2 separate regions of the Homo sapiens genome follow, and region 2 is linked to region 1. Evidence: fine-mapped expression QTL. A gene starts in region 1. The other region holds a variant in brackets. All regions are shown on one strand. Distances are from middle to middle.

The links. PIP is the estimated chance that this variant, and not a neighbour inherited with it, causes the effect.
Region 2: its variant is the best candidate, but not a certain one, in a credible set for the expression of GPR153 in whole blood (TOPMed, PIP 0.71).

Annotation. Positions count from the first base shown.
Region 1 is chr1:6,258,615-6,263,974 of GRCh38, reverse strand. It overlaps GPR153 (G protein-coupled receptor 153), which reads left to right and starts at 2,877. Exons shown (of 6, transcript NM_207370.4): 1 at 2,877-3,150. RefSeq lists silencers at 2,638-2,957, 3,138-3,307, 3,328-3,487, 3,658-3,847.
Region 2 is chr1:6,348,068-6,353,427 of GRCh38, reverse strand. ACOT7 (acyl-CoA thioesterase 7) reads left to right here. Exons shown (of 9, transcript NM_007274.4): 2 at 3,562-3,679. Among named protein-coding and RNA genes, the nearest start is that of ACOT7, 43 kb to the left of the region's middle. The variant A/G (reference allele first, on the strand shown) is at 2,268.

The DNA.
Region 1 (5,360 bases):
TGCCAGCACCCCACAACCCCCCTGTCTGGCTTGCAGAGGATGCCGGCTCTGAGCCTGTGTGGCTTTCCTATGAACAGGGTGGGGCTGCTGGGAAAGACTCAGCGAGGTGATGGTGTGGGAAGAGCCAAATGTGGCCTGGCTCAGCGTGTGGGAGCCCCACCCTGACCCAGCCTCTTGCTAGAAACTGCCTAGACACCCCAAAATCCTGTCTGAAGGAGCCCCCCAGCTGGCGCCAGGACTCTGTGCCTGACGTGGAAACTCCCCCAGCCACTCAGGCAGGAGTCTGCTGGGATGGCTTATAGGGCAGGGGTCTGAGGGACAGCACGAATGTGTGTCAGTGCCGTTGGTGTGAAGCTGTGGGCATACGTGTCACTGACATATCTGTGCATGTGCGTGTGCATCTGTCTGCATATCTGTGAGCACGTGTGTGGTGAGGGTATCGGTGTAGCAGGGTTGATCTGTGCATCTGGCCCAGCCAAGGCCACTACAGGGACCAGGACCCCACCTGCATCCATGGCTGAAAAGGAGGCCCTCCAATCAAGCACACCCAGAAGTGGCATCTGGGAGAATGTTCCCAATTCAGTCTGTCCCTGAAGCCCCAACATCTGTCCTGCCGCCTGGAGAAGACTGGCCCGTCAACAGCTGCGGCCTCGCACAAGGCTCCCTCTGGCCCCTGGAGAGCGAGGACTCGGCTCCAGATGTGCAGAAACACCAGCCAAGAGCTTGGGAATCTGTCCCGGGCCCCAGTCACGGCTGACGGGGTTATTTCCTGTCTGGGAGGGGGTTGGAGGTGGGAGGGACAAGCTCAGCCACATGAAGCTTCTGCCACGCCACCATGCCCCTTGGCCCCCCGGGGCTGGCCTCAGCCAGCCTCGGCCCCCAGCTCCACCCATGACCCATGCCAGAATGGTGCCCTGGGTTCAGAGCAATGAGGAGGCCACCCTTCCCAGCTAGCAGAAGGCCCAGGGCTGGCCACAGCAGTGCCTGAGCCCAGGGGCTCACTGAGGGGACCAGTTCCCCAAAGCACCCACACCCTTCACTTGAAGTTGGGCCCCGCATCAGACTCCCTAGTTCAGTCCTGGCTCAGCCACTCATCCGTGTGGCTTTGGGCAAACCAGGCACCTGAAAACCGCCTCCCAGGGGCACCGGGCACTTTGCAGCAGAACCCAGCACAGCACGAAATAAGCCAGGGCCCCGGGGCGGCCATCAGAGGCCATCTCCCACCTGCCCTAGAGCCAGCTGAGGCCGGGCAGAGGCACTGGTCCAGGCAGTGGGTCAGCTGGGCTGGCAGAGGGGAGCCAGGCCCAGACAGAGGCATGGCTCTCCATGGCTGTGTGTGCAATCTTAACCGTGGTGTTTCTAAGCGGCATGGCTCTCGGTGGCCATGTAATTAAGTGTGGCGTTTCTACCGTTTCACCCCGAGTCACAGGCGAGACACTTAGAAACACCACCCTTGATTACAGCTGCCCTGTGCCAGCCTCCCACTGCTGGTGGCCTATTTATAACCAGGACCACCTGGAGGGGGAGCCAACCTGTCCACAGAGGGCTCACTGGGGACACTGAGGGCCCTGGCTGCCCGAGAAACCACAGGGAGTATAGGTGTGCATGGCCCCAGATTCCCCCTTGCTCAGCCCCACACGTTATTGCGGGGCCTTTCTCTACAGACACTCCTCTTTTTGTCTCATGGGACGGACCCTAAGACCCATCCTGGGCCCCCTAAAAGCTGCTCAGGGACCTGGGGTGTGGGGACGGTTTAGGCAGGTGCAGGCTGTGGAGCAGCCCTGCCCGGACTGGGCAAGCTCCAAGCATCCGTTTTGGCTGCAATTGGTTTGGGTCTCCTCCTGGTCGGGTGCCTAGTTTCCTCCAGACACAGGGGTGCCTAGTCATGGATGTGTCCCAGAGGCACGGAAGGACACTATGCCAGGCAGCCCCAGAGGCCTTGTGCCCATTGTGTGTGTGGTCAGGTGCTTTCTAGAAAAGACAGGCACGATCCTCAGGAGGCGTCCTCTCCAGGGCCCCCATCAAGAAGCAGGAGGCTTTCCGCCTGCATGGGGCCAGCTGAGGCTGTCAGTCTGTGGGTGACAGCCTGTGCTCTATGAGGAGTGGTGATAGCATGAGGGCTTGGGAGGGAGGGGCGGAGGGGCGGGAAGAATGGGAGGAGGGGAGGAGGGGAGTAGGAGAAGGCTTCAGGCGCTGGGCTGCAGACCCTGGCCTCTCCCGGCTGGGCGGTGGTGCTCAGAGTTTCAGAGAGAACAATTTCTGAGCCTGTGGGGGTGGCGGGGACCACTCGGCAGCCCGGTGGCCCGTGCACTTTATTCCCTCAGTGGACCCCCCAGGCCCGGGGAGCAGCGTGAATCCGTAACTGGCCCAACCTTGCCCCTCGCTGCCCCTGCTTCAGACTGGATTCCCGGTTCCTAGAAGCCGCTGGCCATGCGTCCCTTGTCCTCTCCACGCCCCGCCCCGATTGTTCATCTTAGATGCGGCTTCCTCCAGGAAGGTCTCCCTGAGCCCCAGCCCTGGCCCCAGGTTCTCAGTGTCCATTCCTGCCCCAGCTCCCTCTGGCCCCCGGGCCCCCAGAGCTCCGGGCCTGGGTCTTGCCCCGGCGTCCGAAGGCGGCGTCCGGAGTGTGCACCGAGCCGAGCTGGGAGCCAGGGGCGCGGCGCTGTCAGGAGGCGCCACCAGCCCAGGGAGGCTCGGGCCGGCCGCGGGCGGACGCGGGGACACGGGTGGGCTGCGTACGGACGGACTGACGGAAGGACGGACGGGCTGACAGACCGACAGACGGCCGCGCCTCTGAGCGGGCGGGGGCGGGGCGGGCCGAGGGGCGGTGCGGAGGCCCCGGCGGAGACATGCGCCCTGCTCCGCCCCCCGCCCCCGGCCGCCCGGCGCAGCAGCGGAGCGGCGGGAGCTGAGCGAAGCGCGGCGGCGGCGGCGGCGCCTAGGGGAGGGAGGGGCGGCGGGGCCGAGCCCACCTAGCGGAGCGCGCCGGCCGCCGGTGGCCGCCGCCAGCATGCCCCGGCCCGCGGGCCGCTCCGCCGCCAGCCACCCCCGCGGCCCTCGGCGGCCTGCGCTCGGCCCGGGGGCGCGGGAACCGCAGCCGGAGCCGGAGGCGGGAGCAGCGAGCCGGAGCCCCGGGCGCTCGAATGCAGGGTGAGCGTCGCCGCCCTGGCCCGAGGGCGGACGGACGGGAGGACCCCGGCGGGAGGACTCGGCGGGAAGGGAGGGGGCTTTCCGCGCCCTATCGGTCGCGGGGTCCGTCCGAGGGCCCACGAGCGGCGCTTAGCGCTGGCACCCCCCCAACTTGGGGACCTTCGGGGTAACTTCCCTGGGGCCAGCCCCTCCCTCCGTCCCCCTGCATCGGGGCCTAGCAGCGCCGCCCCCTGGGCTTCTCAGGGGACGGGGGCGGGGCGCGGTCTGGGGATCCTGAGCCCGCCCCTGCTCGGCGCAACCCAGAGGGGTCCGGGGGCCGCAGTCCCGCCAGGTTTCCCAGCCTGTCGCTCGGACGCGCCCTCGGGGTGGGGCAGGACTCGGGGCACCCACTGGGGACCAGCAGGCGAGAGCACGCGAGTCGGAGCGGGGATTGCGGGGGGGGGGGGGGATCGGAGCCCCAGGGGGTTGGGACTGTAGGGGCGGGGGCTGGGGGGGGCGTGCCGGAGATGTCCAGGCCTCGCGCTGCGCGTCCCTCCCTGGGCGACGGCCAGGCCGGGCCCCGTGGAACACATCGGCTGCAGCGCGGGCGGAGACCGGCGTGGGGGCGGAAGCCGGGGCGCAGCCAGAGCCCGGGGAATCCTTTCAAGTTCTGGGTTCTCTTTGTTGCGCAATGGGGCCTCGGGGCCGCGCGGCCTCATTGGCCCGGAGCTGTGACGTCACGCCCCGGCCCCGCCCGCATGTCTTGCGGAGGGAGGCCTCATGGCCCGGGTGGGTCCCAGGCTAGTTGCACCTGCAGTTGGCCCTGCAGTGGGCGGGGAAGTGGGAAGCCGGGTCCTGAGATGCTGCGGAATGCTTTAAGTGCCCTGCAGGAGAAACTTCCCAGCAGAAGACAGGGCTTTAAGTGCCCTGCAGGAGACACTTCCCAGCAGGAGACTGGGTCCCGTCGGCACTGTGGGGAGCCCAGCCTGGGGTCTGGCCCTAGTGGCCGCTCCATTCTATGAAGAATGAACAGAAAGGGTGCAATCCGTGGATCTGTGGTCACTGACCCAGAGCCAGAGGGACACTTTGTTCCCACACAACCAGTCCTCTGTCACTCTGCACTTGGAACCCGGTGTCCACGCCCTGTCCCCCAGGACGTTCCTCTCCCATGCCAAGACTACAGTGCCCAGGAGTGCCTGGCCCCAAACCCAGCCCTGACACTATTCTCTCCGTGTTGCCCTGAGCTTCTGCCTGAAGTGTTCCCATCTGCAGTGTGGGGACGGTGAGACCTGCCCTGCAGACCTGAGGCTCAGAAAGACCTCAGCTCTAGGGACAAAAAAAAAAAAAATGCCCTTTTCCCCAACATTTTAGGGTTTGAGAGGCCAGGACTTTGGTGTCAGGCAAGTGGAGTTTGGATCCTGGCTCAGGCAAGTGCTGGCCGGGCAAACAGCTTTACCTCTCCCTGCTTCTGCTGGACAAACTTTACAATGGGGATGAATTGTGGGGGCACTCACTGGAGGAGCATGCCCGTGTGCAAGAGGATGCACGTGCCCCTGCCCACAGACCTAGAGCCTTTTTCTTTTTAAGACAGGGTCTCACTCTGTTGCTCAGGCTAGAGTGCAGTGGCACAATCATGGCTCACTGTATCCTTGACCTCCCCAGGCTCAGGTGATCCTCACACCTCAGCCTTCCAAGTAGCTGGGACTATAGGCTCACACCACTACGCCTGGCCAATTTTTTTATTTGTTGTACAGATGGGTTTTCCCCATGTTGCCCAAGCTGGTCTCGAACTCCCGGGCTCAAGCCATCCACTCACCTTGGCCTCCCCGAGTGCTAGGATTACAGGCATGAGCCACTGCACCCTGCCTTCAGACCTAAAGCCTTTCCCAGCAGTAATGCAGCATTAGGCTAGACGAGAGGAAGAACTGGCACCGCGAAGGGCTGGGCTGGTTGCAGCCTGTGGCTCTTTCCTTACCACCCTGCACCAGTAATCAACACATGGACAGGGTGGGCGGGGCCAAGGTCACGGGGCTAGACAGAGCTTGTTCACGGGGCTAGACAGAGCTTGTTGGGCATCTGAGGGAAGGCCTCCCAGTCTCACAGCCGAGGCTGCCTTGGGCAGGTAGAAATAGATGCTGACCTGCTAGGTGCATGCTGAGTCCACTTTCCTATTTGAGAGCGTAAAGACCACTGGTGTCTGCAGCCCTCTTGCTCACAGCGCTTACTCACAC
Region 2 (5,360 bases), 89 kb before region 1:
TCCTGACCTCAAGTGATCCGCCCCCGCCTCGGCCTCTGTAAGTGCTGGGATTACAGGTGTGAGCCACCGCGCCCAGCAGCCAAATATATTTCAATTTTTTTTTTCTTTTGAGACAGCATCTCACTCTGTTGCCCAGGCTTGAGTGCAGTGGTGCAATTGTGGCTCACTGCAACGTACTCTTCCCAGGCTCAAGTGATCCTCCTACCTCAGCCTCCCTAGTAGCCACTGCGCCCAGCCTGTATTTCAGTTTTTTAATAGTAAAGAGGGGCCGGGTGCGGTGGCTCACACCTGTAATCCCAGCACTTTAGGATCACCTGAGGTCAGGAATTTGAGACAGCCTGGGCAACATGGCAAAACCCTGTCTCTAGTAAAAATACAAAATTTAGCCAGGCGTGGTGGTGCATGCTTGTAATCCCACTTACTCGGAAGGCTGAGGCAGGGGAATCGCTTGAACCCAGGAGACGGAGTTTGCAGTGAGCCAAGATCATGCCACTGTACTCCAGCCTGGGTGACAGAATGAGACGCTGTCTCAAAAAACAAACAAAATAGTAAAGAGGAACATGAAGTGCTTTCGGTACCCGTGTCTTTATTAGAAATGGGATCACGAACGAGGTCAGGAGATCAAGACCATCCTGGCTAATACGGTGAAACCCCTTCTCTACTAAAAAATGCAAAAAATTAGCCGGGCGTGGTGGCGGGCGCCTGTAGTGCCAGCTACTCGGGAGGCTGAGGCAGGAGAACCCAGGAGGCGGAGCTTGCGGTGAGCCAAGATCGTGCCACTGCACTCCAGCCTGGGAGACAGAGCGAGACGCCGTCTCAAAAAAAAAAAAAAAGAAATGGGAAAACGAAGTCTCCAGTGAGACGCAGCAGCTTCCCTGGCTCCCTGGCTCTCACCCCTGCCTGCCTTTAGACAGAGGCAGTCATGACCCTGTCCTGGGATGGACACGGTTGGCCTTGGCCAGGCCATGGGGCGGGGCCTGAGAGAGTGACAGAGCTGTTTATGGGTCCTGGAGGCTGGCTGGATCCAGCGGTTCCTGAGCTGTTTGGAAGGAATGAGGGAGGTGGGGAGGGGAAGAGGGAGGGGCCAGGTGTGGAGCAGCTGGTGGTGGTATGCAGGATGGGAAGGAATCCCAGCTGAGGCTGGGACTCACTGGCTGCCCTGGCTTGGAGGGAAGGTGTCTGATTTGGGGAAAGGGAGAAGGGGTAAGTGAGTTGGGCTTTGAGCCTTGTGCATTGGAGGTGACAGCACAGTCCCCAGGCAGGAGTCAGGTCCTGTAGGGGAGAGGGTTGTGTCTGACCTTGAGGGCAGGGGCTGGCTTCCTGGGTGGTCAGTTGGGGAGTTAGGATGGTCCTTGGTGCAGGACCCAAGGTGCCGAAGAAAGGCGGCCAGGCCCGTGGTAGCCAGCTGGCGTGCGGTCTGCAGTTCCTGGCATGTACTCCTGATGGCACAGCGCCAAGTGCCGAGTCCTCACTTTGTTGCCAGGTGGCTCCAGGCTCTTCCTCGGGGCCTCAGGCACTGTCCCTGGTCTTCTGTCTTAAAGGCTACCCACATATCTGTCCTGTCTTCAGTGCCCACCGCATGAAAGCACTTCCTCCGCTGCTCTGCAGCCCTTGGCCCGCGTCTTCTCTCCCTGGCCTTGTGTCATTCCTGGGGGCCAGCCTGCTGTGTGTGGCTCCACTTCACAGACAGGCAAAGTGAGGCCTGCAGCAGTCATTCAGGCTGCTCTGGAGGCTGGCTCTGCTGCTCCTGGGAAATGCTGGGCTGATGTTTCCTCACTGCTCTAGAACCAGGAGCTGGGCCCTGCTCTCCGCACCCACCCACAGCCTTGGCTAGTGCCCCCAGGACAGGCCTGTGTGGAAAGTGACCCTCTGCCCGCTGCAGCTGGTGCGGGGAAGGCCCTTCCTACTAAGTGGAAAACAAAGGGAAGAGGCTGATAGAATCATTTTGTGACTTATAATTGGCTACCTCATAACTCAGACAAAAAAAGCCCAAAAACCTTTCATAGAGTAAGTTCAATTTTTAAAAACAAAGGTATTTTAAAATGAACACTTGAGAAGCCAAATGAGGTTTCTTGTGTGCTCTGGGGATCCCCCGGCCACTGTGTCACGCCGTGCCGGCCGCTCCACAGGCAACTGTCCCTGAGCCTCCCACGGAACCTTGGGCCCTGCCTGACCTCAGAGCCAGAAGCCAGTTGGCCTAAGTGGGCCCTGGTTTGCATAATAGACTCTCACCCAGGGTGGAGGGGTGACACTGGGGATGGGCAGCT[A/G]TGGGTTGCTGGGGGACATCTGTGGTCATTTGCTCTAGAAGTGGCATCCTGTGGCCAGATGGTGGGTTTCTTGGAGCTTCCAACCAAGTTGGCTAAATACTTACCAAAAAGGGAAAAATTCTCCTAGTTAACGTGTGGACTATCTACTGTGTACCATGTGTCTGCCAGCGCTGTTGTGGAGTGAGTGTGCGATCTGCGTGATCTCCCAGTTAGGCGAGGCAGTGTTGTCATTCTACCCATTGTACAGATGAGCACATGGAGGATTGAGGGTTCTGACAGCTTGCCCAGGTTACCTAGCAAGTAAGAGCCAGAGCCAGGAACGCTCTTGGAGAGTGACTTGCTCAGCCTTGGAGCTGCTAGAGAAGCAGAGAGGAGATGCAGACCTGGGGAGACGCTGCTCCTGGGGCCCCCACACTGTCCAGCAAGGCTGGGCAGGCTACACAAGCTGCAGGTGGATGCTGGACCCTGGACCTGTGCCCGCTGCCTGTCACTCGTCTCCAGGCCTCGGCCTGTGAAGGCGGCTTTCATCAGCTGGGTGCTGTCTGGGAAGGTGCCAGGCAACTTGCCCTGGCAGGACTGCCAAGCTGGCTTGTTGGGATTCCAGAGATTTCGTGGAGCTCCCACACTACCGGCTGCTCACGGCAAGGATGAAGTTGTTCCTCTTTGGGGAAGTGAGGTGGCGTTTCCATTCCTTCTGACCTGGGAGGCTCCTTGCCTTCAATCCAGGGCCTGATTCCACACTGCCCCCGGGACCCACAGAGGAGCTTAGCGCGCAGTGGGCAGGCGCTCACCTGCTGACAGGGCCTGGGGTCTTGAAGCTGCGACTCATGTTTAGTTCTCAGAACAGCCGTGGCTACCTGGCTTCTCTGGGACTCCTGACGGGGGTGGTGGTGGTCCCGGGAATTTGCTCCTAGGGTCACAGTCTGTGTGTTGGTCACTGGGAACCCCAAGGGCTGATCACCACCTCCCTGCCCTGTGGCTTTGCTTAAAGGTCTTCACCATCAGCCCTTCCCTGCCAGGGCAGTCCAGGGACATGTGGCTTCAGGGGGAGAAAGTGCCCCTCTGCCCTCCTTCTCTCTCATGGAAACAGCATCTCAGGGCCCCTTCCGTGGCCTAGCAGGTGGCACCCCACCCTGACGAACACACCACCTAGGAAGAGCCCAAACATTGGGAAGGTTCTCTTTCCTCCGGGAGCCATTGAGCCCTTTGGGGACCTTCTCCCCTCCTTGGATTGTCACTGTTGCACAAATGGCATCCTCTCCAGAGGCCTCATCCTGCTTCTCCTCTGCCCTAGGATCATGCGGCCAGATGATGCCAACGTGGCCGGCAATGTCCACGGGGGGACCATCCTGAAGATGATCGAGGAGGCAGGCGCCATCATCAGCACCCGGCATTGCAACAGCCAGAACGGGGTAAGGGTCTGGGCCCCATACCTCTGGGCCCTGGAGGCCGCACCAGTGTGAGTTCAGGACAGGAGTTCCCCGGGGAGCCAGGCCTGCAGCCTTCCCTCCCCTTGTGCACTGGGCCTTGGGAACTGTGGGAGAAGTGGCCCAAGTATTTCTGCACCGGACCCTCAGAGCTATGCTTGGTTTTGGCCTCAGCCAGGAGGTGTAGGAACCCACCAGAGATGAAGCGTCAAGCAAGCTGACAGGCCCTCCCTCCACCACTCCCCGCCATGCCGAGTCCCCCGCCAACCTGGCCCTGATCAGAAGCATGCCCCGCCTCCGTGGGGTGGAGTTTATTGTGATGGCCAACAGCTGAGACATAAGAGGCCAGACAGCAGATGTAGGAGAGGTCCCACCTCTGCCCTGACCAACCCTGGTGGCCATGGCACCATAGCAAGTGCCGTGGCTCTCTGTGACTTGGCCACTTCCTGGCTTTGAAGCTCACAGGCCTGGTACCACTGTGCCCACAATGGGAGCAGCTCTCCACCTGCCCCAAAATTGTGTAGCTCGGGAGGGCCCTGTGACCCTAAAGCTGGGGACAAGGGGCACGGTGTCTAGTGTCAACCTCAGGGCTGCTGTAGGACATTCAGCCATCCCCAGCCCTGGGGAGGGGACATTTTCTCTGAAGGGCGGCTGTTGGGGGGAAGCCAGCCCTTGGGTGCTGAGGACAGGGCGTCTGCCTTGGTGCCGCAGCTGCAGCCTCTGCACTATGGGGCTCGGTCAGCACACCTTCTGTGGCCTCCAGGGAGGCAGAGAAGAGGAAGACTCAGCCCCAGCTTGGAGAGTGGGAGTGTGAGGTGCAGGTCCCCACCATGGGCACGGGCATAATGCCACTCTATCAAGAGGCCAAGTGGAAGCCACGTCAGAGACCAGGGACCAGCGGAGGCACTGTGAGCTCTGAGCCACACTGTTGAGATGCAGGAAGTGGCTGCTGGCTCTGTCAGCCTGGGCTGCCGGAACTAAGACCACAGCCTGCTGGCTTGTGAACAATGGAAATGCATTTCTCACAGTCCTGGAGGCTGGAAGTCCAGGATCAGGGCGCCGGCAGATTTCGTGTCTGTTGAGGGCCCATTTGTTTCCTGGTTCATAGATGTCACATCACTTCCTGTGTGTCCTCGCTTGGTAGGAGTGGCTCTCTCAGGCCCTTTTATAAGGACACTAATCCCATTTGTGAGGGCTCTGTCCCCATTCTCTCATCACCTCCCAAAGACCCTGCCTTCTACTACCATTCCCTTGGGGGTTAGGATTTCAACACAGGGATTTTGGGAGGTGGGGACAGCCATGCAGAGCATGGCACATGCATTCAGCCTGGAACAGTGGGTAGGGTGTGTTTCAGTGGAGGAGTGGAAGCTGTGTGTGTGTGCGTGTGTGTGTGTGTGTATCTGCGTATGCATGTGTGTGTGCATATGTAGAATGAACCAAGCCACAGTAAGTGCGGATGGTTGGACGTGGATGTGGGGGATGTCGTGTGGTACAGGTTCAGGAGTGGGTTTGCTGGCAGTGCCTGGTTTAGGAGGGGCTCGCTGGCTGGGCTGGGGGTAGATTGATTCTTTGGACCCGAGGCTCCGGTGCAGCTCAGTCACGTTCAGAGAGCACCCTCTGGTGGCTGTGGGGAGGGTGGGCCTGAGCCTGAGAGCCTGGGGCAGGG